Linked DNA regions of Homo sapiens. The protein of the gene in region 1 interacts with the protein of each later gene in a biochemical or structural test. Each region holds a gene or a part of one and is shown on either strand. Other genes may lie near its edges. The genes, in order: STAT5B, ABL1, KIT and PTPN1.

Region 1 (6,283 bases):
GCCTGCCTTGGCCTCCCAAAGTGCTGGGATTACAGGCGTGAGCCACCGCACCCAGCCTTTTTTTTTTTTTCTTTTAAGAGACAGGGTCTTACTCTGTTGCCCAGGCTGGAGTACAGTGATGTGATCATGACTCACTGTAACCTTGAACTCCCAGGGTCAAGTGATCATCCCACCTCACCCTCCAGAGTAGCTGGGACTACAGGCGCACACCATGAGCACCACCATGCCCACCTAATTAACTTATTTATTTATTTATTTACTTAGAGACAGGGTCTTACTATGTTGCCCAAGCTGGGCTTGAACTCCTGGCCTCAAGAGATCCTCCTGCCTGAGGCTCCCAAAGTGCTGGGATTACAGGCATGAGCCACCGCACCCAGCCAAAAGTTATTAAAAACTTTAATTCACAGAAAATGAACCAGCAAGCTACCCTTATTGTGAGGGTCAGAGGAGAGAACTAACTTTCCTGATGCCCTGGTGCAGTGGCTCAAGCCCGTAATCCCAATACTTTGGGAAGCCAAAGTGGGGGATTGTTTGAGCCCAGGAGTTCGAGACCAGCCTGGGCAACATACAAAAAATTTAAAAATTAGATGGGTGTGGTGGTGCACGTCTGTGGTCCCAGCTAATCGGGAGGCTAAGGGAGGAGGACTGCTTGAGGCCAGGAGGTCAAGGCTGCAGTGAGCCATGTTTGTGCCGCTGCACTCCAGCCCGGGCAAAAGAGTGAGACCCTGTTTCAAAAAAAGAAAAGAACTAACATCTTGGGTAGAAATGGTTGATGGCAATATCCATATGTTAATTAGGATAAAGGAATATTTTTACTACTGTAAGAACTCCAAATCATCAAATTCTTCACTGAAATAAGCTTTATGCAGAGTAGTACAATAAGGCAAACATTTTAAGAGGGAAGCAACTGAGATTCTGCACGGACTCTTGTATCATAGGTAGCCATGTCATGGTTAAATGTTCATGTGTAACCATGCTGCCATATACTTTCATGTATAACCAAATTAGCAATTGTGTTTCCCATAATAGTATTTTTCATAGGCTGCCTTATTATGAGTATGTCATGGCTATACATTTATGTTTCCCATAATTAGTACTGACCTCAACAAATAGTAAGTACCCACTAAATTATTTGTTAAAATAATTTTGTAACGAAAGCAGCTAACTTTGGACATAAGAAGGGAGGGGCACTCACGAGAATCAAACTTCCAAGCAATGGTGATGCCGCCAATTTCTGAGTCACTGAATCTCAGGAGGAAGGTCCCATCTGGCTTGTTAATGAGTAGGTCATGGGCCTGTTGCTTGTTTACAAACCCCAAAATGGCCCTGGATCACCAAGGACAAAGGACAGAAGCAGAGTGTGACTTACGATGCCAGAGAGAAGACCTTCAGACTCTGTCGGCGCCTTAAGAAATAATGATTCTCACCCATCATTCCAATGAGGCTTGAGATGTTTTTTTAACACTTCCATCACACCGTCAAACCATTGCCAGAAAGTGTAATTCCGTCCTGGTAAATTCTCCTGGTTGGAGATACAACAGTGAACATAAGAACACCAGAGTAACACTTGGAATATTATACACATATTTAATTGGAAAAATTAAATGGGAAACAAACATCTACCCTTGTCAGAGGCATACAAATATCCCCGCCTACCTGAGTTTTACCTAATGGCCCCATGGAGAGGAAAAGAGGGAAGAAGGGGAAAATACCAAACTGCAGTTACCAGCACCCAGTGGGCTCCTGCTACAGACACTTTCACCTGGGACTGGGCTGACCCGTCCCTTGCTAGTTTCGATGTGTGGTCTGTGACCAGAAGCATCAGTGTCACCTGGGAGCTTCTGAGAAATGCACGTTGTTAGGCTCCAAATTAAACATTTAAAACACCTTGGGGGTGGGGGGTGTAGGAAAAGAAACAAAAATTAAATTCAAATCAAGGTGATAGCCGGGCATGGTGGCTCACGTCTGTAATCCCAGCACTTTGGGAGGCTGAGGTAGGCAGATCACTTGAGGTCAGGAGTTTGAGACCATCCTGGCCAACATGGTGAAACCCCGTCTCTACTAAAAATACAAAAATTGGCTGGACATGGTGGCGGGTGCCTGTAATCCCGGCTACTCAGGAGGCTGAGACAGGAGAATCACTTGAATCTGGGAGACGGAGGTTGCAGTGAGCCCAGAATGTACCACTGCACTCCTTGTGACAGAGCGAGACACCATCTCAAAAATAAATAAATAAACAAAAATAAATAGGGTGGGCACAGTGGACTCACGCCTGTAATCCCAGCACTTTGGGAGGCCGAGGCGGGCAGATCACCTGAGGTCGGGAGTTCGAGACCAGCCTGACCAACATGGAGAAACCCCGTCTCCACTAAAAATACAAAATTGCGGGGCGTGGTGCCGCATGCCTGTAATCCCAGCTACTCGGGAGGCTGAGGCAGGAGAATCGCTTGAAACCAGGAGGCGGCGGTTGCGGTGAGCCAAGATCGTGCCATTGCAGTCCAGCCTGGGCAACAAGAGCGAAACTCTGTCTCAAAAAAAAAAAATGAATAAAAATAAAATCAAAGTGACGTCTGAATTAGCAGATGCTAGAGGAGGAGTTTCTTTCATCAGCATCCCTCTTTGTGGGTTGAGGGTCCCATAGGAGCCTGATCTGGCATTACACATGGGGAACATAAGAGAGTAAAGGGGAGAGAGGCCCAGAGTTCGCATCCCCTCAAAAGCTTTGCTTCTCATGAGCTATGTTAACATCTGCTTTGCTCTATTTCCTTTACAAAGGAAGAAAATGCATTAACTGTAGACAAAGGTCAACTTATTTAAAATATGCAAAGATGTAATTTTCTACACGTGACCTGGGTAACTCTCAAGTTGTCCATCTAGTCAGAAGCTTCTATTACTTTCGGTACATTTTATTAGAGACATGAAGAATAAGGGCCCAGGGCAGGGAGACTCCTGAGAGCATCTGGTTGGGAAGGACTGATCTAACAGCGGCTGGCAGCTGGGCTCCTCACCCTGTTGAACTGGGACCAGGACACAGACAGGCCACTGTAGTCCTCCAGGTGGCTGCTGCTGTTGTTGAACAGTTTCTGCGCCAGGAACACGAGGTTCTCCTTGGTCAGGCCCCGGTTGCTCTGCACTTCGGCCTTGAATTTCATGTTGAGCGCCTCACACAGCTGTGGCCACAGCACTTTGTCAGGCACGGCAAATGGCACCCTGCCCTGAGAGGGAGAGAGGCCAGAATCTGATGAGAAAACAGTTGCATGATTTATTCCCTCAAGCCACAAAAGAAAAACGCTGATGGCTGGGAGTGGTTACACACATTTGTCTTGCAGGGCCTGAGGATAAATTCAGACTCTGCTGGGGTACACGGTTCTGTGAAATTCAGAAGGTTCCGTTTCACCTTCTTTACACACAACTAGAAGGTAACCCATGCTATCCATGCTGTTTTGTAAATGAGCTGCTGAACTAACAGTCAAATCCTATGTTCTAACGGCCACAAACCAAAACATAACCAAGGTCTGGCTCTTAGATTGTAAACACCTTGGGAATTTAGAAATCTGAAAGACTGGTCCTCTAGGTACAAACAGAGAGAGTGTGCGTATGTGTGCACACGTGTCGGCATGTGTGTACACACGTGGAATCATTGCCCTCGACTCCTTCTGCCAAGAATTCTAGCTCAAAGTAAAACAACTTGGTATGGAAGAGTGGAAATTTTGAGTTGGATGGCTTTATTGAGAAATAGGTTAGAAGATTAACTTTTAATAAACTGCTTTTCAACCCGTTCAGCCATAGTACTCCATTTTATTTTGTTACAAACACTTTTTTCAATAGGTGATTTTCACATGATTTAAAATTCAAAAAGCACAGACGGCTACACAGTGAAGTCACTCCCTATCCCTGTCTCCCAGCAACCCAGTTCTTTTCTTTAAAGGCACCTAACACAGTTTCTTGTGTATCCCACCAAAGATATTCTATGCATGCCAGCAATGACATATACCTTTTCCTTTTCTTCACAAATGACAGCACAAAATCCACATGTTCTGCATCTTCCTCTTTTCACTTAATCCTCTATCTGGGAGACCTCCCATCAGCACATAAAGAAATTTCACCAGACCCCCATAGATGGGCATCAGTGTTACAGCCTCATCTTTAGCTATTACTAACAATGCTGCAATGTTCTTATGTTATTTGACCCACAGGACACATAGGCAAATATATATGGAGAATAAATTTCCACAATTATTTTTTTTTTTAGGTAAGGTCTCGCTCTGTCATCCAGGCTGGAGTACAGTGGCCCAATCTTGGCTCATTGCAACTTCTGCCTCCTTAGCTCAAGTAATTATCCTACCTCAGCCTCCCAAACAGCTGGGACTACAGGCGTGCACCACCATGCCTGGCTAATTTGTGTGTTTTTTGTAGAGACAGGGTTTTGCTATGTTGACAAGGCTGGCCTCAAATTCCTGGGCTCAAGAGATCCGCTTGCCTTGGCCTCCCAAAGTGCTGGGATTGCAGGCATAAACCACTGTGCCTGGCCACAAGTCTTTATTATTTATTTTTTATTTTTTATTTTTTTGAGACAGAGTCTCACTGTGTTGCCCAGGCTGGAGTGCAGTGGCACCATCTCAGGTCACTACAACCTCTGCCTCCCAGGTTCAAGCAATTCTCCTGCCTCAGCCTCCCGAGTAGCTGGGATCATAGGCACGCACCACCACGCCCAGCTAATTTTTGTATTTTTAGTAGAGATGAGAGTCTCACCATGTTGGCCAAGCTGGTCTCGAATTCCTGACCTCAAATGATCCACCCACCTCGGCCTCCCAAAGTGCTGGGATTACAGGTGTGAGCCACCGTGCCCAGCTGAAAGTCTTTTTTTTAACATAGCATAAGGTCGGCTGGGTGCAGTGGCTCATGCCTATAATCCCAGCACTTTGGGAGGCCGAGGTGGGTGGATCACTTGAGGTCAAGAATTCGAGACCAGCCTGGCCAACATGGTGAGACCTGGTCTCTACTAAAAATATAAAAAATTAATTGGGCGTGGTGGCATGCACCTGTAATCCCAGCTTCTCGGGAGGCTGAGGCAGGAGAATCGCTTGAATCCAGAAGGCAGAAGCTGCAGTGAGCCGAGATAATGCCACTGTACTCCAGCCTGGGTGACAGAGCAAGACTCTGTCTCAAAAAAATTAAAAAAAAAAAAATAGCATAAGATGTAAGTAGTCATTAACATAGCTGAGAATGTTAAAAATGCTTATTTATTTAGACAAGATACTTGAGTAATTACATGGTGCAGGAGATGCCAAAGGTACACAGAGAGTGAGATCTGTGGACAGGCAGGGAAGGAAACAAGAGATGTGGCAATCTTATCTAGGAGGCTTATCAGGACAAGAGGCAGACAGACAGTTTCAAAAAGGAGCTTCTGATTCAGAGTTTGTAAGTGAAGTATGGTAAATCTCTTAAAAATCTCACCTTTGCAGTAAAATACTTTTTCTCTAAAGAGGAGTGTTGGGAAACGTTAAGCCTCTCCACGTGAGCCAGAAGGTTCCATTTCACCTTCTTTACACACAACTGGAAGGTAACCCATGCTGTCCATGCTGTTTTGTAAATGAGCTGTTGAACTAACAGTCAAATCCTATATTCTAACAGCCACAAAACAAAACATAATCAAGGTTTGTTGGATATACTTAGAGAAGGACATGCTCTTATGTCCCAAATGATAACCCTTTTATCATGCTTTTATGGACTAATCTCTATTGGAAATATGTAACAAATGACCTTTGCCTACTAAAAAAATTTTTTTCTTTGAGACAGGGTGTCGCTTTGTCACCCAGGCTGGAGTACAGTGGCACAATCTTGGCTCACTGCAGCCTGGACCTCCTGGGCTCAGGCGATCCTCCCGCCTCAGCCCCCCCCAAGTAGCTGGGACTAGAGGCTGGTGTACCATGCCTGGCTAATTTTTTGGTATTTTTTGTAGAGACAGGATTTTGCTATGCTGCCTAGGCTAGTCTGGAGCTCAAGGGATCTGCCTGCCTTGGCCTCCTGGAGTGCTGGGATTATAGGCATGAGCCACCGCACCCAGCCTATGAGATCTTTAAAATGCTCATCGAGCAGCATGCTAGTGGGATTCAGATAGCGTTTGGGTGCATAAATCCACCAAATTATATCTTCCTTGAGGCAAAGTATCTCATTCTTCATGAGACCTAGAATGAATCACAGAAACTAAAATTTGGAAAAGACATTTAACAGCATCTTCATTTATTGAAAGGAAGAGGGTATGAAGCAACTTCTATGCTAA
Region 2 (4,811 bases), on another chromosome or scaffold:
ACTGTGGGACACAGCCCCTTATTCCCAGAGCTCCTCATAGGCCTCTCGGCTAGCTGGCTGGCAGGAGAGCCACAGGTTTTGACCCTTTGCTTGGCCTTGTCATCGTTTTTATACTCACTAGAGAGTGATGTGGGTGGGTGGGGGGCTGCTGCCTTCAAGTAAACCAGTGCAGGGATGAAGAGGCCAGGGCCGTCCAGCTTTTTGTTCCCATCTTCAGGGAAAGAGACCAAAGCGTGTGTGTGGTTTTTTTTTTTTTTTGAGTTGGAGTCTCGCTTGTTGCCTACGCTGGAGTGCAGTGGCACGATCTCAGCTCACTGCAACCTCCGCCTCCCAGGTTCAAATGGTTCTCTTGCCTCAGCCTCCCAAGTAGCTAGGACTATAGGCACCCGCTACCACGCCTGGCTAATTTTGTATTTTTAGTAGAGACGGGGTTTCACCATGTTGGTTAGGCTGGTCTCAAACTCCTGACCTCAGGTGATCCACCCGCCTTGGCCTCCCAAAGTGCTGGGATTACAGGCATGAGCCACTGCACCCGGCCCAAAGCCTTTCCTAATGACAATCCTAACAGCAATGATGGCTTTATTGAGAGAAGCGTGACACGTGCTTCACCTTTACAACCTCATCTGCATTCTCACAACAGTGCTGTAGCCCGGCTGGGACTTGCCTGGCCTCAGGGATGGTGGCATCAGAGCCGGTTATCAGATCCAGGCCTGTCTGAGCCCAGACGCTTGGGTGCTCCTCTGGGGAGCATGGGGTGGGGGCAGCCCCCAGCTTGTGCCACGGGAGCCTGACCTTGTGATTCGCTGACCTCGGCCTCCTAAAGTGCTGGGATTACAGGTGTGAGCCACCACGCCCGGCCAACAGTTTTTTAATGGGCACTCTTTAAATATGAATCATAGCTCATAAGAAATCTTTCTGGTAGCCAGGCGCGGTGGCTCAAGCCTGTCATCCCAGCACTTTGGGAGGCTGAGGTGGGCGGATCATGAGGTCAAGAGATAGAGACCATCCTGGCCAACATGATGAAACCCCGTCTCTACTAAAAAATGCAAAAATTAGCTGGGTGTGGTGGCACACGCCTGTAGTCCCAGCTACTCAGGAGGATGAGGCAGGAGAATCGCTTGAACCCAGGAGGTGGAGGTTGCAGTGAGCTGGTATCATGCCATTGCACTCCAGCCTGGCAACAGAGTGAGACTCCATCTCAAAAAAAAAAGGAAATCTTTTTGGTGTTGCCAAGCTCCTGCTAGTGAGTAACAGAATTCTCCCTCAGAGGTCAGCTTGCAAGAAGAGGTTTTCTGTTGGCACCTGTAACTCAACAGAGGTACCAGTATGCATTTATCAGAACCCAAGGCAGCACGCGGGACATCTGAATCAGGGAACACCAAAGCCCTCCCAAAACTTTAATCTAGTGGAAGGAGGCCAGGAGAGTGAAATTGCAATGAATTATGCACCACTCAGTTTCAGCACTGAGCAGTTAATTGACACCCTCGGCTCACCAAGAGATCACTATCAAAATACCCCTCAGATGAAACTGACGGGCGTAAATGAACATGACTGCTGATCACTGGGTTCTTAATAAGCACAGCGTTCCCAGAGGCCTCTCCTCCCTACTGCTCAGCCACCTGAAATCAGGAAAACCGATAAGAGGAGGAAGGGTGGAAGATTCTGGAGAGTCTATACGCCATAACCTCCAAGTAGGTGAGTGAGATGGCCCAGCGGGGCGGGAAGTATTGCAAATTTGGACTTATTTAGCATGCAAGCCTTTTAAATGTGCGTTTTGGTACATAACATACGCACTCTACTCCTACAGTAGTGGACATACGTACTTTATATACCATATATATGGGCTGCATGTTCTGTTTTTTTTTGTTTTTTTTTTACTAATGAGAGTACGTGATAAAACTCAGGTTTATAGATTCTGCTGTCAGTAAACATCCCACCATAAATCTTCAAGAAGTAGGGCTTTGTCCAGTCCCTTCACATGTACCCAGTCTGCAGTCCATTAGAATGGAGTCCACCATTGCCATCCCCAGGATCCTCTGTGAACCCAGATGCTTGGCCTACCCCCCACCTCCAATATGGGTTGGCTGAGTCCCCACCCAAATCTCACCTTGAATTGTAATAAGCCCCACGTGTCAACGGTGGGGTCAGGTGGAGATCAATGAATCATGGGGAGGTTTCTCCCACATTCTCGTGGTAGTGAATAAGTCTCACGAGATCTGATGGTTTTATAAAGCGGACTTCCCCTGCACAAGCTCTCTTGCCTGCCGCCAAGTAAGATGTGACCTTGCTCCTCATTCACCTTCAGCCATGATTGTGAGGCCTCCCCAGCCATGTGGAACTGTGAGTCAGTGAAACCTCTTTCCTTTATAAATTACCCAGTCTTGGGTATACCTTTATTAGCAGCATGAAAACAGACTAATACACCCCTCAATGCTTTTGTTCAGCTGGTCTGCAGCAGAACCTGGACTGCTGGTTCTGGGGGTCAACCATGAACATAGAACAGAGCCTGGCCTGTAGTAGGCACACTACATAAATGTTGGCCATTATTATTTTTGCTAGTGTCTTGAGACCCCCTCCTGAGCTGATCCCAACTCCCTTGCTCGCCTAGGCAATGGCACCAGAAAGATGCTCTTCCCAGAGACCACCAGGACACGGGTTCTGTCCATGTGCGTGTCCTGGTTCCACCTGGCTGCAGCGAGCTTCTCACATCAGTGCCTTCACCGTGAGCTGCTTGTCACGCAGCCTGGTGCTTACTATTGTTGAATCTGCTCTGAGACAGCAACCACAGATGCCGCGGGTAATAGGTGGGAGATGGGCTAGCTCCTTGGCGGGCTTCAGAAGCACCTCTGCCTACAGGACTGAACTCACTGCTGGAGCCTATGCTCCTCGGGGACTCTCAGAGGGAGGGGATAGGAGGCAGGTGGGGAGAGGAGAACCTTCCTCCTTCCGAAGCTGAACCATTGACAAAGGCCATGGCTGCCCTTCTGTGCGGGCTCCATTCACAGCTTCCCGTTGGCCTATGATGGCCTGAATGTAGCCTCTGGCAGGGAAGGGAAGAGCAGTGGGGTTGGGGGAAGCGGGGGACTTACCGCTCTCTCCCTGGCCCTTGGAGTGAGGCATCTCAGGCACGTCAGTGGTGTCTCTGTGCTCTGCAGCTCTCCTGGAGGTCCTCGTCTTGGTGGGCAGCTCTGGGGCCTGCAGCAAGGTACTCACAGCCCCACGGACGCCTTGTTTCCCCAGCTCCTTTTCCACTTCTAAGAATCATACAGGGACAGAAACAAAAATCCAGCAGCCATCAGTACTGGTGTTGGCTTGGTGTGGTGGTTCTCTTTCTTTGTAAGGTAACAGTGCTCATCTGCATACAACTAAAGAAAAGGCACGTGGATACCGGAGAAACAGCCCTTAGCATTTCTTAGAACTCTGCAGGGCTGCAGCAGACAAGAAAGCACAATACTCCACACCTCTGCCCAGCTTTCTGGTCTCAGGACAGGCTGGTCTGTGAACTTTCACCAGGAAGTGAACCGAATGACCCAGGCTGCAGTCCCACATGGCTGCCCTTTCACCCCACTGCAGGTACCCCGGGATGGGTACTTTACCGTCTGAGATACTGGATTCCTGGAACATTGTTTCAAAGGCTTGGTGGATTTCAGCAAAGGAGGGCCGGTCAGAGGGATTCCACTGCCAACCTGGACAGATGAAACCCAAGTCAGATCATCCATGAGATCTGGCTAGCAATACGGGGCTAGCAGTTCTCAAGGAAAAGTCTAGAATGAAAGCAACATTCCAATCCTGCTAACCATCTTTTGCTGCAACAAGTCAAAACGATGAATGTCATCATGTCCTGTTATAGACATTAAGAATTTGAAAAGACGTTAGATGCTGGCAGGAATATGGATTGTAAAACCCCAGAGAGACAGTGACAGCAAGAACTGCATTTACAAATATATTTTTCCCAGTCCCGCTCTAGTAGGTGTAGAAAATTACTAAGCCAAACAGCTCACCTTCTATCTTGTTCTTTCTTCACGGTTATCAAAGTCTGAAGTAAAGAAATTCTCATGAAAATGAGACTAACATGAGGACTAAACAGACTGACAAAGCCTAGTACTGGGGACCAGGAACAGTCACTCCCATATGCGTCTGACTGGAGCATACAATGGCACAACCTTTTTTAACAGTTTGGTAAAATGTATCAAAATTTAAAACCCACACAGTTCTTGGAACCAACAGTTCAACTTTTAGAAATACCAGCCAAAGTGCCCAGAGATTCGTGTACATGAATATTTGTTTCTGCTTTGTTTATAAGGGCAAAAACCAAACAAATGTGTAAAACAACCAAATGCACATCAAAAGAGGACCGGATGAATGAGTGAAATGGAGTACTGGGCAGCTATACATAAATAAGAGGTAGGGAGAGGGAGAGATCTGAATATATGGACGTGGAAAGACATGTGTGGGAAAACAGTGTAAGAAATGGCCATATAAATACCTTATAAGATATATGAAAACATCCTGTGTGTGCATAGTACAGATAACACATATGTAATCAGTATAAAACGACCAGATAAAAATCACCTCGCAGCTGGGCGTGGTGGCTCACGCCTGTAATCGCAGCACTTTGGGAGGCCGAGGCAGGCAGATCACCTGAGGTTGGGAGTTGGAGACCAGCCTGACTAACATGGAGAAACCCCATCTCTACTAAAAATACAAAATTAGCCGGGCGTGGTGGTGCATGCCTGTAATCCCAGCTACTTGGGAGGCTGAGGCAGGAGAATCGCTTGAACCAGGGAGGTGGAGGTTGAAGTGAGCCAACA
Region 3 (6,283 bases), on another chromosome or scaffold:
GGAGTTCCTTAAAGTCACTGTTATGTGTACCCAAAAAGGTGACATGGAAAGCCCCTGTTTCATACTGACCAAAACTCAGCCTGTTTCTGGGAAACTCCCATTTGTGATCATAAGGAAGTTGTGTTGGGTCTATGTAAACATAATTGTTTCCATTTATCTCCTCAACAACCTTCCACTGTACTTCATACATGGGTTTCTGTGGGGAGAAAGGGAAAAATAGATCACCTTTTAATAATTATTGTCTCAGTCATTAGAGCACTCTGGAGAGAGAACAAATAAATGGTTACCTGTAAATATTTGTAGGTCAGAATCATCACAATAATGCACATCATGCCAGCTACGATTACGAAACCAATCAGCAAAGGAGTGAACAGGGTGTGGGGATGGATTTGCTCTACAATGGAAGAGAAATGTGGAATCACAAACTTTGGCAGGATGGGATCTCTACCACAGCCACTCAGTCCCAAACTGACCCCACCTCCCAACTCACAGCCCATGGCAGGATGCAAAGCTATGTGAGTCTCAGAGCTTCACCTTGGTTACATTGTACTCTTGTTATTCAAATGAATCTTTAAAAATATAACTTGAAACCACAATACTGCAGAATAGAAGTTGAGATTTCTGTAGAAAAGGAATAATTTATGCTGTTTTTCAATGAAAAGCAACATCTGAATGCACTTTATACTTCAATCAAATTCCTGCCTTGTACAACTTTAAAAAAAAGAAGCTTCCTTTATGGACGGTTTATATTTTCTTCTTTAAGCTTTCCTGTATTTTCCAAATTTTCTACACTGAGCATGAATGTCTTTCACAACCAAAAAAAAAAAAAACATTTTTAAGGTATTCTTTTCGTTGCCCTGTCTGAAAAACATGGAAGATTCTTCCCCTCACTACTCAAAACCTGAGAAAACACGCCACTTTTTGGCACTAGTCTTTGCCGACTCAAAAAACGAAAACAACAAACAAACAAACAAAACCCCAAGAAGGCCTAAAAAGTAAGTGCCCAGTTTCTTTGTCTTCCCACTTTGTACCAATTCATCAGTTTGCCCAAAAGATCTTTTAACTTGTTAAGAGAGTTAGTCACACATGAATCAAATTTTAAATATTTTAAAGAAATAACTTGCTAACATGACTTCATAAAGGCAGTGTTAACTTTTGGATACAGTGTCTGGCAAAGTGTTAAAATAATTCATTTTAAATAACTGAAATTTTTAATTGAATTTAAATTTTAGATTGTTCTAATTCTGTTTGGGTGTAAGGTAAATATATTCCCCCATTTGCTTTCTCTAGCTCTTTTTAATGGAGACAATTGTAAATATACAACTAATAGAGACACACATACATATAAAATATATAAAGTAGCATGGTTAAAATTGCTCTGGTAAAAGCATATACTTAACAAGCTAGTACAAAATGAAACTTAGTGAGTTTGATGACAGTATGGTGTGATGCATGTATTACCAGAAATGACATGGTCAATGTTGGAATGAACTTAAAATCATGACTGATATGGTAGACAGAGCCTAAACATCCCCTTAAATTGGATTAAAAAGAAATATACCTTTGTTGTTACCTTTAAATGCAAAGTTAAAATAGGCAGAAGTCTTGCCCACATCGTTGTAAGCCTTACATTCAACCGTGCCATTGTGCTTGAATGCACTAGAATCTATAGAACTCTGAACCACTAGCTTTCCAAACGGTGGCCCAGATGAGTTTAGTGTCTGCACATCCACTGGCAGTACAGAAGCAGAGCATCTAAAGGGAAGAAAACAAAAGCCCTGGCTTACTCTAGGAAAATAAATAAATACATAAAACACTTGGGATGTGGCATACTTTTAAAACAAAGTTAGAGGTTCATAATCAACAGAAAATGTCCTTTTACAAGTGTCTAAGAATAAGCACTTTGGTGACCTAGTGAGTGAAAAAAGCACTGGGGAAGAGAAGGCAGAGGAGGCTTCGGAGTCAGATGCGGGTTTGAATCCTGATGAGTTTTTAACCCCCACCAACACTGAGTTTCTACGACTGTAAAACAGGGATAGTAATACCCATTGCAGAGGGTTACTGAAAGGATTGGAAAGGAATTCAATAAAATGGCAGGCATATATGCTGGTACACAGTAGATCCCTAAAATAAACAAGCTTCAAAAGGGTACACGAATGGTTGAAAAGAAATAGCATAGAGGAGGAAAGCATAAAAAATCTTCAAGGGGCCGGGCGCAGTAGCTCACACCTGTAATCTCAGCACTTTAGGAGGCCGAGGTGGGCAGATCACCTGAGGTCAGGAGTTCAAGACCAGACTGGCCAACATGGTGAAACCTCGTCTCTACTAAAAATACAAAAATTAGCTGGGCGTGGTGGCAGGCGCCTGTAATCCCAGCTACTCGGGAGGCTGAGGCAGGAGAATCACTTGAACCCTGGAGGCAGAGGTTGCAGTGAGCCAAGATCACTCCATTGCACTCCAGCCTGGGCAAGAGAGTGAGACTCGGTCTCAACAACAACAACAACAACAAAATCAAGGATGTAGACCAGAAAATAGTCAAAGTGAGGACTGAAGTTTGAGTTCTAAGCAGGAAGGCCTAGTTATACTGCAGGTGGCTGAGACCACCACTGCAAGGGATCCTTTTCATGAGCCAGACCCCGACTTCCCTATTCTAAACACCTAGCTATTCCCTGTTTCCTTTCTTAACACCTACATACATTCATTGTTTATTCCATCTATTATGTGTTTCTACCCACTAGAACAAGCTTATCCAACCTGCAGCCCACATGTGGCCCAGGACGGCTTTGAATGCGACCCAACACAAATTCATGAAGCTTAAAACATTATGAGATTTTTTTGCAATTTTTTTTTTTTTTAGCTCATCAGCTATCGTTAGTGTTACTATATTTTATGTGTGGCCTAAGACAGTCGTCTTCTTCCAGTGTAGCCCAGGGAAGCTAAAAGACTGAACACCCCTGCACTAGAACATAAACTCATAAAGGCAAAAAGACTTGGGTGTGTTCTGTCCATTAGAATAGTGTCTGGTACACACTTGCCACTCCCTGTGTATCTACTGAATGAATGCCTGTAACTACAGGGCTTGCTTCTGCTGTGGCCATTCCTCCCAGGGGCCTTGAACCCTACTTAGTATTCCCCAAAAGAAAACACTCTCCTAAACCCCAGCTGAAAACAGCAATCCGATGTAACCCCTTCCAACTTGTTGTGATAAAGAGGCTTATTCCATGAAAAATAAAATTTCTGCGACCATACTAACTATTCAATTGTGATGTTAACCTGGGCTTTTAAAGCCTGAGCATAAAATAGCAATTGATGGATAAAAACAGCTGTGGTGACCCCATTTTCGTCTTCAGGTAATGCAAAAGGGCAATTTAAGGCTTAAGTGTGGATGGTGAGGGGCAAGCAGCACAGTGCCAGATGTTCTCTGTTCAGGGGCTGGGCACATTATCAAGAAGAAACCCTTTTTAAAAGCGGTCGCTTGCAAATGCCATATGTATGTTGTAATTGTGCGATCATTACTTTTTGGTAACTTGGCAATTAACTACTGAGGTAATTTTTTCATGATAACTACAGTCACATTTCCCACACACATTACCTCCTGTGTATAGAATGGAAATCTAATTACTCTGTCCTGCAAAATTGCTTTATCTACCTGCAGGCTAGAAATTGCATGATAAATCCAGAAAGATAACACCAAAATAGAGAAGTCATTCAGTAATGATTTTTCAGCAAACAAAATTAATGTCTACCAAGAAAAATATAGCAATTATCCCTTCTAAAAAGCCACATGGCTAGAAAAAAAACAATAATCAAAACAAAGCTTTTTTAAAAAAAATCAGAAAACATATTTGAAATTCAAGTGAATTGCAGTCCTTCCCCTCTGCATTATAAGCAGTGCCAAAAATAATCATCTCACCTCTGCTCAGTTCCTGGACAAAAATACCAATCTATTGTGGGCTCTGGGAATCCTGCTGCCACACATTGGAGCATGCCATTCACGAGCCTGTCGTAAGTCAGGATTTCTGGTTTTGCTACAGGAAAACAGAAATGGCCATATGTCAGAGTGCTGGAAAACCTCAGCAACATTCACTTCACTCCCTCTCTAATCCCTACAACCTTCCTGAGGCTGCTGAGTAGCCTGAGGGAGCAAGTTCAAAGGGCAGAATCTGAACCAAGGAGTGGAAGGTACAAGGAGGCGGCTGTCAGGGTCCAACCCAGAAAGGCTTTCCCAGCCACAGTGGCCCAGCCCCAGAGGAGATGGCTGAGGCAGAGGTGGCAGGGCCAACTGCAGGGTTTCTGCTTTCAGGGAGTAGGGATCTGAAGACTGCTTCTAATCAAACTCTAGGACTCCAAAGTGTTCCACAGGTAAAAATCTACTTTAAAGGATTCCTGCCAATGGGATTTCAAGCAACTGTACCTGCCCTAGGAATTTCAAGTTATTGTGGGAACTGGAATGGATGAAATTAGGAGTTGTTAGAGGAAAAGATAAGCCCCACTCTTTTGCTCTTACATGAATTTTCTCCTTTTTGGGGGTGGAAGGGTGGTGCCGATTAAAAGCCGAATCACTCTATTTACAGGGAAGCTAGAACATAAAGAGTAAAATACAATATGGGCTTTACTTCAAATCTTTGTTTCAAATGCAAAATATGAACAGAAAACTAGAAAAGAAAACCAGCCTAAGATTTATATATTTATGTATATTATGAACGTGAATATATATATATAAATACATATATATAAATATATATACATATATATAAAAATATATATAAATATATATAAATACATATATATATATAAATATATATATAAATCTGAATATATTCACTGTAACAGCAGAAATGCTCTAATTTGGTATTTCTATGTAACTACAATAACCAGCTAACACTCAAGAATTTCTAATTTTTGAAGTTATTTACAAAGTGAAAGGAAGATGCACTTATACTCGGTGGTTCTGATGGCAATACATCTGAAGGATTCCAACCCTCTAAGAATAAATAAGCTCAACAGAAGCAACAGGATGGCAGGGATGCTGATATGCTCACCCTGTACTCTGAAGAATAGCATTGATTGTGCCAAGTCTAAGCACAGAATTACGGGAGCCCCATGCATAGTGGACACATCTGAATACCAGCTCTTACATTTCTCAGTTCTTTGAACTTGAGTAAGTTTCTACATCTCTCTAAATTTTTGTTCCCTCATGTGTAAAATGGGAATAATAACTGTGCCCCTCTCATAGGGATATTGAGACAATTAAATGAGATGGCACATACAGAGAGCTAAGAATGACTTATAGAAATGAAACAATTATTTATTATTATTATTGCTGGGCACGGTGGCTCAAGCCTATAATCCCAGCACTTTGGGAGGCTGAGGCTGAGGCAGTGGATCACCTGAGGTCAGGAGTTTGAGACTAGCCTGGGCAACACAGTGAAACCGCATCTCTACTAAAAACACAAAAATTAGCTGGGCACAGTGACATGCGCCTGTAGTCCCAGCTACTCGGTAGGCTGAGGCAGGAGGATGGCTTGAACCCAGGAGGCAGAGGTTGCAGTGAGCACCACTGCACTCCAGCCTGGGTGACAGAGTGGGACTCCATCTCAATAAAATTTATTATTACTATTAATACTGAGTTATTATTTTATAATCAGAATATCTACCTTTCTTGGATAACCAATTTCACTACAAATGAAGTGAACTGTATTTGCCACTCTAAATATTCTCCTCAATAATCTAAAAATTCCTTCTTTAGAATAGTCTGATAAGGTGTATATTTTAACCCAATGCGCAGGGAATTCAACATCAATTATATTGCAACTGATAGGGAAAATATATGCAGTGAGAAGGAAAGACTGACAGATCAGAAACTTAGGAAGTTTATTTCCCCAAAGGAAGGTAACACTGATAAATGACATCTTTGTAGAATAACCTCTCAGCACCTCACCTCCCTGGAGGCACCTCCCTGGAGTTGGCGGAGATCAGAGTATCCACATGCATGACACACCCACCTGTCACTCAACCTGGCCCTGCTGATGAGCAGGCCATTTGGCTAATATACACAAAAGAGAAACTCTCCAAAACAATCTCAAGGTAGGGGCATCCTTGAGAGTTTGGATCCAATGCCAGCTTTACAAATAGAGCAAGAAGACAAGCCATCGTCTTGCGAAAGCATCCATCTGGCAAGTTTCATTTAATTATCATGGGCAACTGTGTGATCAGGCTGAAAAGTAGGACACGACACAAGAAATCAGCAGACCCTTAGGAGAGTGCTATTTGCTAGGGACTC
Region 4 (6,283 bases), on another chromosome or scaffold:
AAAAAGTGAACAAGGAACAGCAGGTGAGGCACTGGCTCTGGGCAACTTTCAGACGGGGGCTTCAAGATGATCTGGAGGTTTCAGAGGATTGTCACTTTAGAGAAAAAAGTAGCAGACTTGGTCTCCAAAGACTGGTGACTCCAAGGTGTGGCTCAACACCCAGCTGAAGAGGCAGTCAATGCGAACGGCATCAGCCCATGAACCGAGTGTGTCCTACGTGCTGGCGCTGCGCTCTCCCACCAGCTGCTCCAGGCAGGCACTCCCATCCATTTTCCGATGAGGAGGTGGATGTTTGGAGGCAGAGAGTCCATGCTGAGAGCCTGCTGCAGACACGTTTGAAAGGTGGACCCCAGCCCTTGTCCCAGAATGTCTCTTCCGTGGCTGGGTCTGCCCCAGAGGAACAGAAGCAATGGCCTGGCGTCTGTTTCCAGCTCTGCTCCTTCCTTGAGGCTTCTGGCGGCTGTGATCAAAAGGCAGCCCTCACTGGGGGGAGTACGCAACATCTTCAATGACCTAAGAGCTCCTAGTAAATGGGAACCAGTCACTTGGTAAGCAAGGCCCTGAGAGGGAAAGGGCTCTGGAAGTGAAAGTCTCCTAACATGGGCCCGGGAAGACAGCCACAGACAGGAACCATACCAGCCTGGAGAGTTTCCCTGTGGCCCAGTGCCAGGGCCACCTGGCGAGCAGCTGATGGCAGAAGGATTCAGGCCAGAGATCTGCTCATGATGCCTTCCTTCACTTGACGAATGTCCACACTATGCCAATCATGTGCCAGTCACTGTGCCAGGGAGGCGGGGGCAAAGACACCACCTCACCCTCACAGAGCTCATGGCATAGTTACTAGGACCTCCCCCAACTCTGCTGGGATGAAAATAATACATATTTAACCCTGCCTCAGCCATTAAATACACTAGTAAATAATATTTAATGTTCATTAAATATTAAATACAGTATCTTGGCACAGAACAAGGAGAAATTTGTGTATGTTAGGATAATTGCTAGACTCACACTAGGCAATTCCATCATTCTTTCCTCTCTAGAAAATGGTATCCATATAACCTTAATGACATTAAAGAAGAAGAAATACCTCTTCTATTTGGTGGGTGGAGGCAGGTGGGGAAGAAAAGGACTTAAAATGTATTTTTAAAAAATTATTATTATTATTTTGAGACAGAGTCTTGCTCTGCCGCCCAGGCTGGAATGCAGTGGCATGATCTCGGCTCAATGCAACCTCCGCCTCCTGGGTTCAAGCAATTCTCTGCCTCAGCCTCCCGAGTAGCTGGGATTACAGGTGCCCGCCACCACGCCCGGCTAATTTTTTTTTTTTTTGTATTTTTAGTAGAGATGGGGTTTCACCATCTTGGCCAGGCTGGTCTTGAACCCCTGGCCTCGTGAACCACCCACCTCAGCCCCTCAAAGTGCTGGGATTACAGGTGTTAGCCACCGTGCCCGGCCGTTAAAATGTATTTTAAAATTGAATAAGAAGCAAGCATGCCAAATGCAAGTTTTCCTTTAATCCTTGAAGGTGTGGGTTACCGCCCACTGACACCCTCCCTCACACCTGCTCACCTCTTTCACAAGGAACTCATTCCAGCCTTGTGCTAGAACAGACAGCTATGGCTGAGAAAAGCCTTTTAAAAACAAAGTCTGTTGGAGCAAACAGATCCTAACATCAAAACCTCTGAGCTGGCTGTATTCACTCTGCCAAGCAAAAAGCGCACAGCTCTTCTGCTCTGTTGAAATTCAGTTTCCCTCAACAAGCAAATAGTTTCCCAGAAGTCACTCTTAATGTCAGGCTTGCAAATGCTAAAAAGCATTCTTTTAAAAGGCTACTGCATAAATCCTCTAGCACATTCCAACACACTGCCCATGTTACTCCTGAGAATCTTCCAGAAAGCACCTCCATCCACCGTACTCAGAACCCTCTGCCCCATCAGGGCTATGGCAGGGCTGGTGACTCCGGCGCGGTCACCACCAGAGGGCAGAAAGCACTCACATCAGCTGCACTGCTACCATCCTCAAGAGCCAGGCAGCCCGAACCCCTTGCCTACGTCCTGGTAACCTGTGCTACATTCTAGATCTTACTTCTACTATTTTTTTTATTTATTTATTTTTGAGACAGGGTCTTGCTCTGTCACCCAGGCTAGAGTGCAGTGGTGCAAGCATAGCTCACTGCAGCCTTGAACTCCCGGGCACAAGCAATCCTCCTGCCTCAGCCTCCTGAGTAGCTGGACTATAGGGGAGCACCACGATGTCTGACTAACTGTTTTTGTTTTTTTGTAGAGACGGGGGTCTCACTATGTTGCCCAAGCTGGTCTTGAACTCCTGGCCTCGAGTGATCCTCCTGGCCTCAGCCTCCCCAAGTGCTGGGATTAAAGACGTGAGCCACCGCACCTGGCTTACATCAACTATGAAATGAATGGCAGGAGCCATGATGATTAAAAAGTAGTACTTGAGAAGGGGAGGCATGGGGTAACCCAGAAGCAGATCCCTCCCCACCCACACAGCCCTGGAGCCCCACTCCACATGGTCTCCCTACGGCTCCACCTTCCCTTCAGATAAAGCCCGTGCTACACACCCATGGTAACTGCTAACCCTTCCCGTATAGGACCTCCCAGAACCCTCGCAAAACCTGAGTTTGACAGAAGAGGAAACGGAGACACTGTGATGAGCTAGTAAGGTGGGGCCAGGATTCGACCCCAGTTAGGTTCTAGAGGTTGGTGGCTGGCCACTCTTCACTGGTGCCCCCAGGTGCTGCCGCGCACTCCCTCCACTGTTCCCCAGAATGACATGAACACCCCCAAGTTACGGATCCAGGGGAATTATTCCAAAGCCCCAGGAGCAGCGCGTTCAGCGGCAGTGCTGCTTGCCACAATGCCTTGCCATGTTCCAAGACCAACTTTTACCAAGCAAGTAGCTGGTGTTATAAACTCTTCCCACAACAAAAAAACCCAAGACCTGGCCCAGAAAACTTTCACTAGCTATGAAACTGGAGTGAGCCCCTATACCCCTTCTTCCCTCTCTTCAGACTCGAAGACTGAGGACCACAAAGAAGGCAGCATGCTTCACTGGGACTTGCAGGCTGCCGCTCCAGTCCCTCTGCAGCTGCACAAGCAGGAACCAGTCTTTTGGGTAAGAAACTCTCCTTTCCCTAAGAACTGGTGTTAACTGTTGTTAAAGGTCAGAGAGAGCACTGTGGCCTCCACCCTCCCTGGGCACTTGGTAGGTACACAAGTAAGCTCCGCTCACCACAGTGCCCAAACCACATCTTGCTCGGGGTATACAAAAGCCAGGAACACTGACATTAGGTAATATCACCCAAGGGATAAAGGAAGAGGCATGTGAACCAGTAGCCGCCTGAAGTGCTGAAGTGTGTGCTATACTCACTGTAAGGTTTTCCAATTCTAGCTGTCGCACTGTATAATATGACTTGATATCTTCAGAGATCAATGTTAATTTCAAATTTGTGTCTTCAAAGATCATCTCTTTTTCTTCTTTTTGTGGCCAGTATTGTGCGCATTTTAACTGGGGAAACAAATAATAGTGAATTATTGTGAGCAATATGGCAGTTTTTCTATGGCAGGAGGCTTGGAGCACATCCCACAAGCTTCATGATAACTCAAAGGCCTGGGGGTTTCTGAACATGGAAGCCATGGTCAGCACAGATGCCTGCCTCATGGGGAGATGGGGGTGGGGGCACGAAGCTGCTGACCGGGGCAGGTTGTGCAGACAGGGCTCAGACTTCCAAACCCATCGGCTCCCCGGTCAAACGTGGCAACGGGATCCTGCAGGGCTCTGACGCTTTCTCACCGTCTACGAGGTGAAGCCAGATTGAACAAAAGGCTTTGAAACTCCTCTGTGTAGCCATTTCAAACATTACCCAGGACCTGATCAGGCTGCTGGCATAGAATGTAGGTGCCTTACCCTGCACAGAAAACTCACAGGCAATTAAAAATAAAACTGGGAGAGACAGCAGGTGAGGCCCTTTGGAGAGGCTGAGCAGTTATCACCAAATACAGACTCCCTTTCAGAGAAGGCTTGGAGACAGGCTCCCCAGGGCTTGCCCTTTCATTCTGGTTTGGTTCAGTTCATTCAGAAAAATACTTTTGATGTTCTATTTTGATAATCTCAGACACTATCTGATGTTCTCAGTTTAAATGTAGCTCATTAAATTTTTCTTTAAAACAAGAAAATTTATGAAAATTTGGTTTCATTTAGGGTCTAAGACAAAAACTGACTCGAATTTAGTGACATTTTACTTGAACTAAGTTTCTGCCTCAGTTACACAAATGTTTCTGCTCATGGATAACTGTTGTGGACAAAAATGGCAGGTCAGCAGGGGCAGAGCTACCGGGTCAGCCTGACCATGTGCCTGGACAGAGGGAAGCTCAAAGCCCTTATGATTTTCAGCAAAAGAAATGTCAGCGTGTGTCAACAGCTCTTTGGCAAATGACACTGGCAGTTCACGTGCACTGACCCACTCAATACCTCCTCTGGGGCAAAGGATGGTGTGGGTGAAGGGAACCACTTCAGGGCCAGCTGTCTGTCAGAAGACACTGCTGTGCCCAGCAGTGACAAGGTGGACTATGGGGGAGGGCTGAGGGGGAAATGCTACGGACATGCAGCAGGAATTCAGAAGAGGGAAATGTTTCAGGTCAGCCAAGGTTACAGAAAAGAGAGATCAGAGAAAGCTCTGTGCAAGAGGCAGGTTTTGAAGGATGACTAGGATTTCCTAGGCAGTGACTGCAAATAAGAGGCTGAAAAGAGCAGCTGGAGAAGGGGCCAGCAGAGGCCCAGATCACAGACGACTGGCAGCAGGCCCAGGGACCTGTGGCATCATCTGGGGGCAATGAGGAGCCAGGAAGCACGTGAGGAGGGTGAATATAGAACCACAAATGCCTATTGGTCCTGCTCTACTGGAGCTGGAAGCTGCCCAAAAGACAAAACCAAAGCAAAATGTGGGAGAAACAAATTAGGAAACACCAGGTTGTGGTGCCAGCATCACAGCAAACTTCACAGTGCCAGACCAGAAGCCAACAGAGCTTTCTCAAGAGTCTGGACACAAGCCTGTCTGAAGTCTTAGCCAGTTTCATCCATGTCACCTTCCTGGATCAATGATGAGTTGCCAAAAGTGAACTCTTGAATGGGGACAATCTGTCACCATTGAAGCAATTCTGCCACTTGGCATGGAGGCGCTAATTACATGGCAAGACCCCCACTTAGCCAAAGTGGGTGTGGCAGCTAAAAGCAGGAACTTAGAAGAATGTGAAAAGATGAATTAATCCCACACTTCTAACAACTAGATCTTATAATGCCTCAAGACCCCAGAAACAAGAGACTGATCTGACAGGTTCCACCCCACCCGTGCTGGGGTGGGCATTCCACAGAGTGAGCAGACAGAGAAGGAAGCGAAGAACAGAAATGCAGGAGGAAGAGGCCACCCTTCCTCATCTCATAAGCAGGGCAGACGAGTCTTAAAGCTCACCTCCAGACAGCAAGCACTCACTTTCAAAACCAAACCTAATGCTTAATAACCCTCTGTAATCTGGGTAAAGACTAAGACTTTGGAACTGTACAAGTGAGGAATTCTGTCATGCAACTAAGTGTCAATAACCCAATATTTATTTTTAAGGACTCTCAGGTGTCTACAGCAACAAGCTATGCTCTGTCATTTCCAATAGAAATTTTTGTTTTAAACACACAAAATTTTTAAAAGGCACAAGATCACATTTCCAGTTACCCTATTACATTGATATATACGGCCATGAAAAGTAGATGGATTTTTATTAGAACACAGTACTTCACCAGGCCTCAAATTGAGTCCTATCTTGGGCTGGTACCAGAGGAACATGGCAGTGCCAACATGCTAGCATCTCTCATAGTTGCTGTTTCCACCATGAAGGCAGATGTTAAACAGTCCTTGGGGCCTTCCCAAACAAGTGGGCAAGTGGTGTTTGGAAAACCTATGAAAGACATCTACAGTAACCCTGTGACGGGTAATTTGGTTTCGCCAAAAATTATTAACACAGAGAACTAAGTAAGTAATTCTTAACACAGAGAACTAAGTACGAGAGAAAAATGAATTATATGGACCCTGTGATACAAAATGCAGTGTCTTGTGCATGAAAGCACCTGAAAGCAAACGGCAGCTTTAGTGAGGATTTCAGGAGGGAGATACGGGTGAGATTCTGCAATGGCCAATTAAACTCACCTTGCTTACTTCCCCCTTCTAAACAACAATCCCAACCCTTACGCCATGGTGCAGCCTACACTGAGGTGTCTA

What was found.
Region 2: the proteins of STAT5B (region 1) and ABL1 interact in a biophysical measurement, tested with the Homo sapiens proteins (one study listed by IntAct).
Region 3: of the proteins of STAT5B (region 1) and KIT, one has a biochemical effect on the other in vitro, tested with the Homo sapiens proteins (one study listed by BioGRID).
Region 4: the proteins of STAT5B (region 1) and PTPN1 form a complex in vitro, tested with the Homo sapiens proteins (one study listed by BioGRID and IntAct).

What each region holds. Positions count from the first base shown.
Region 1 is NC_000017.11:42,208,976-42,215,258, forward strand, and holds part of STAT5B (signal transducer and activator of transcription 5B), read right to left. Parts: intron 5,628-6,283; coding exon of another isoform or gene 5,607-5,627; exon of another isoform or gene 5,557-5,606; intron 3,216-5,556; coding exon 3,009-3,215; intron 1,523-3,008; coding exon 1,428-1,522; intron 1,327-1,427; coding exon 1,196-1,326; intron 1-1,195. UniProt on the Homo sapiens protein: Carries out a dual function: signal transduction and activation of transcription. Mediates cellular responses to the cytokine KITLG/SCF and other growth factors. Binds to the GAS element and activates PRL-induced transcription.
Region 2 is NC_000009.12:130,878,943-130,883,753, reverse strand, and holds part of ABL1 (tyrosine-protein kinase ABL1), read right to left. Parts: intron 3,687-4,811; coding exon 3,597-3,686; intron 3,255-3,596; coding exon 3,090-3,254; intron 1-3,089. UniProt on the Homo sapiens protein: Non-receptor tyrosine-protein kinase that plays a role in many key processes linked to cell growth and survival such as cytoskeleton remodeling in response to extracellular stimuli, cell motility and adhesion, receptor endocytosis, autophagy, DNA damage response and apoptosis.
Region 3 is NC_000004.12:54,721,329-54,727,611, reverse strand, and holds part of KIT (mast/stem cell growth factor receptor Kit isoform 1 precursor), read right to left. Parts: intron 4,029-6,283; coding exon 3,914-4,028; intron 1,756-3,913; coding exon 1,562-1,755; intron 395-1,561; coding exon 288-394; intron 197-287; coding exon 70-196; intron 1-69. UniProt on the Homo sapiens protein: Tyrosine-protein kinase that acts as a cell-surface receptor for the cytokine KITLG/SCF and plays an essential role in the regulation of cell survival and proliferation, hematopoiesis, stem cell maintenance, gametogenesis, mast cell development, migration and function, and in melanogenesis.
Region 4 is NC_000020.11:50,571,759-50,578,041, reverse strand, and holds part of PTPN1 (tyrosine-protein phosphatase non-receptor type 1), read right to left. Parts: intron 3,526-6,283; coding exon 3,388-3,525; intron 1-3,387. UniProt on the Homo sapiens protein: Tyrosine-protein phosphatase which acts as a regulator of endoplasmic reticulum unfolded protein response. Mediates dephosphorylation of EIF2AK3/PERK; inactivating the protein kinase activity of EIF2AK3/PERK.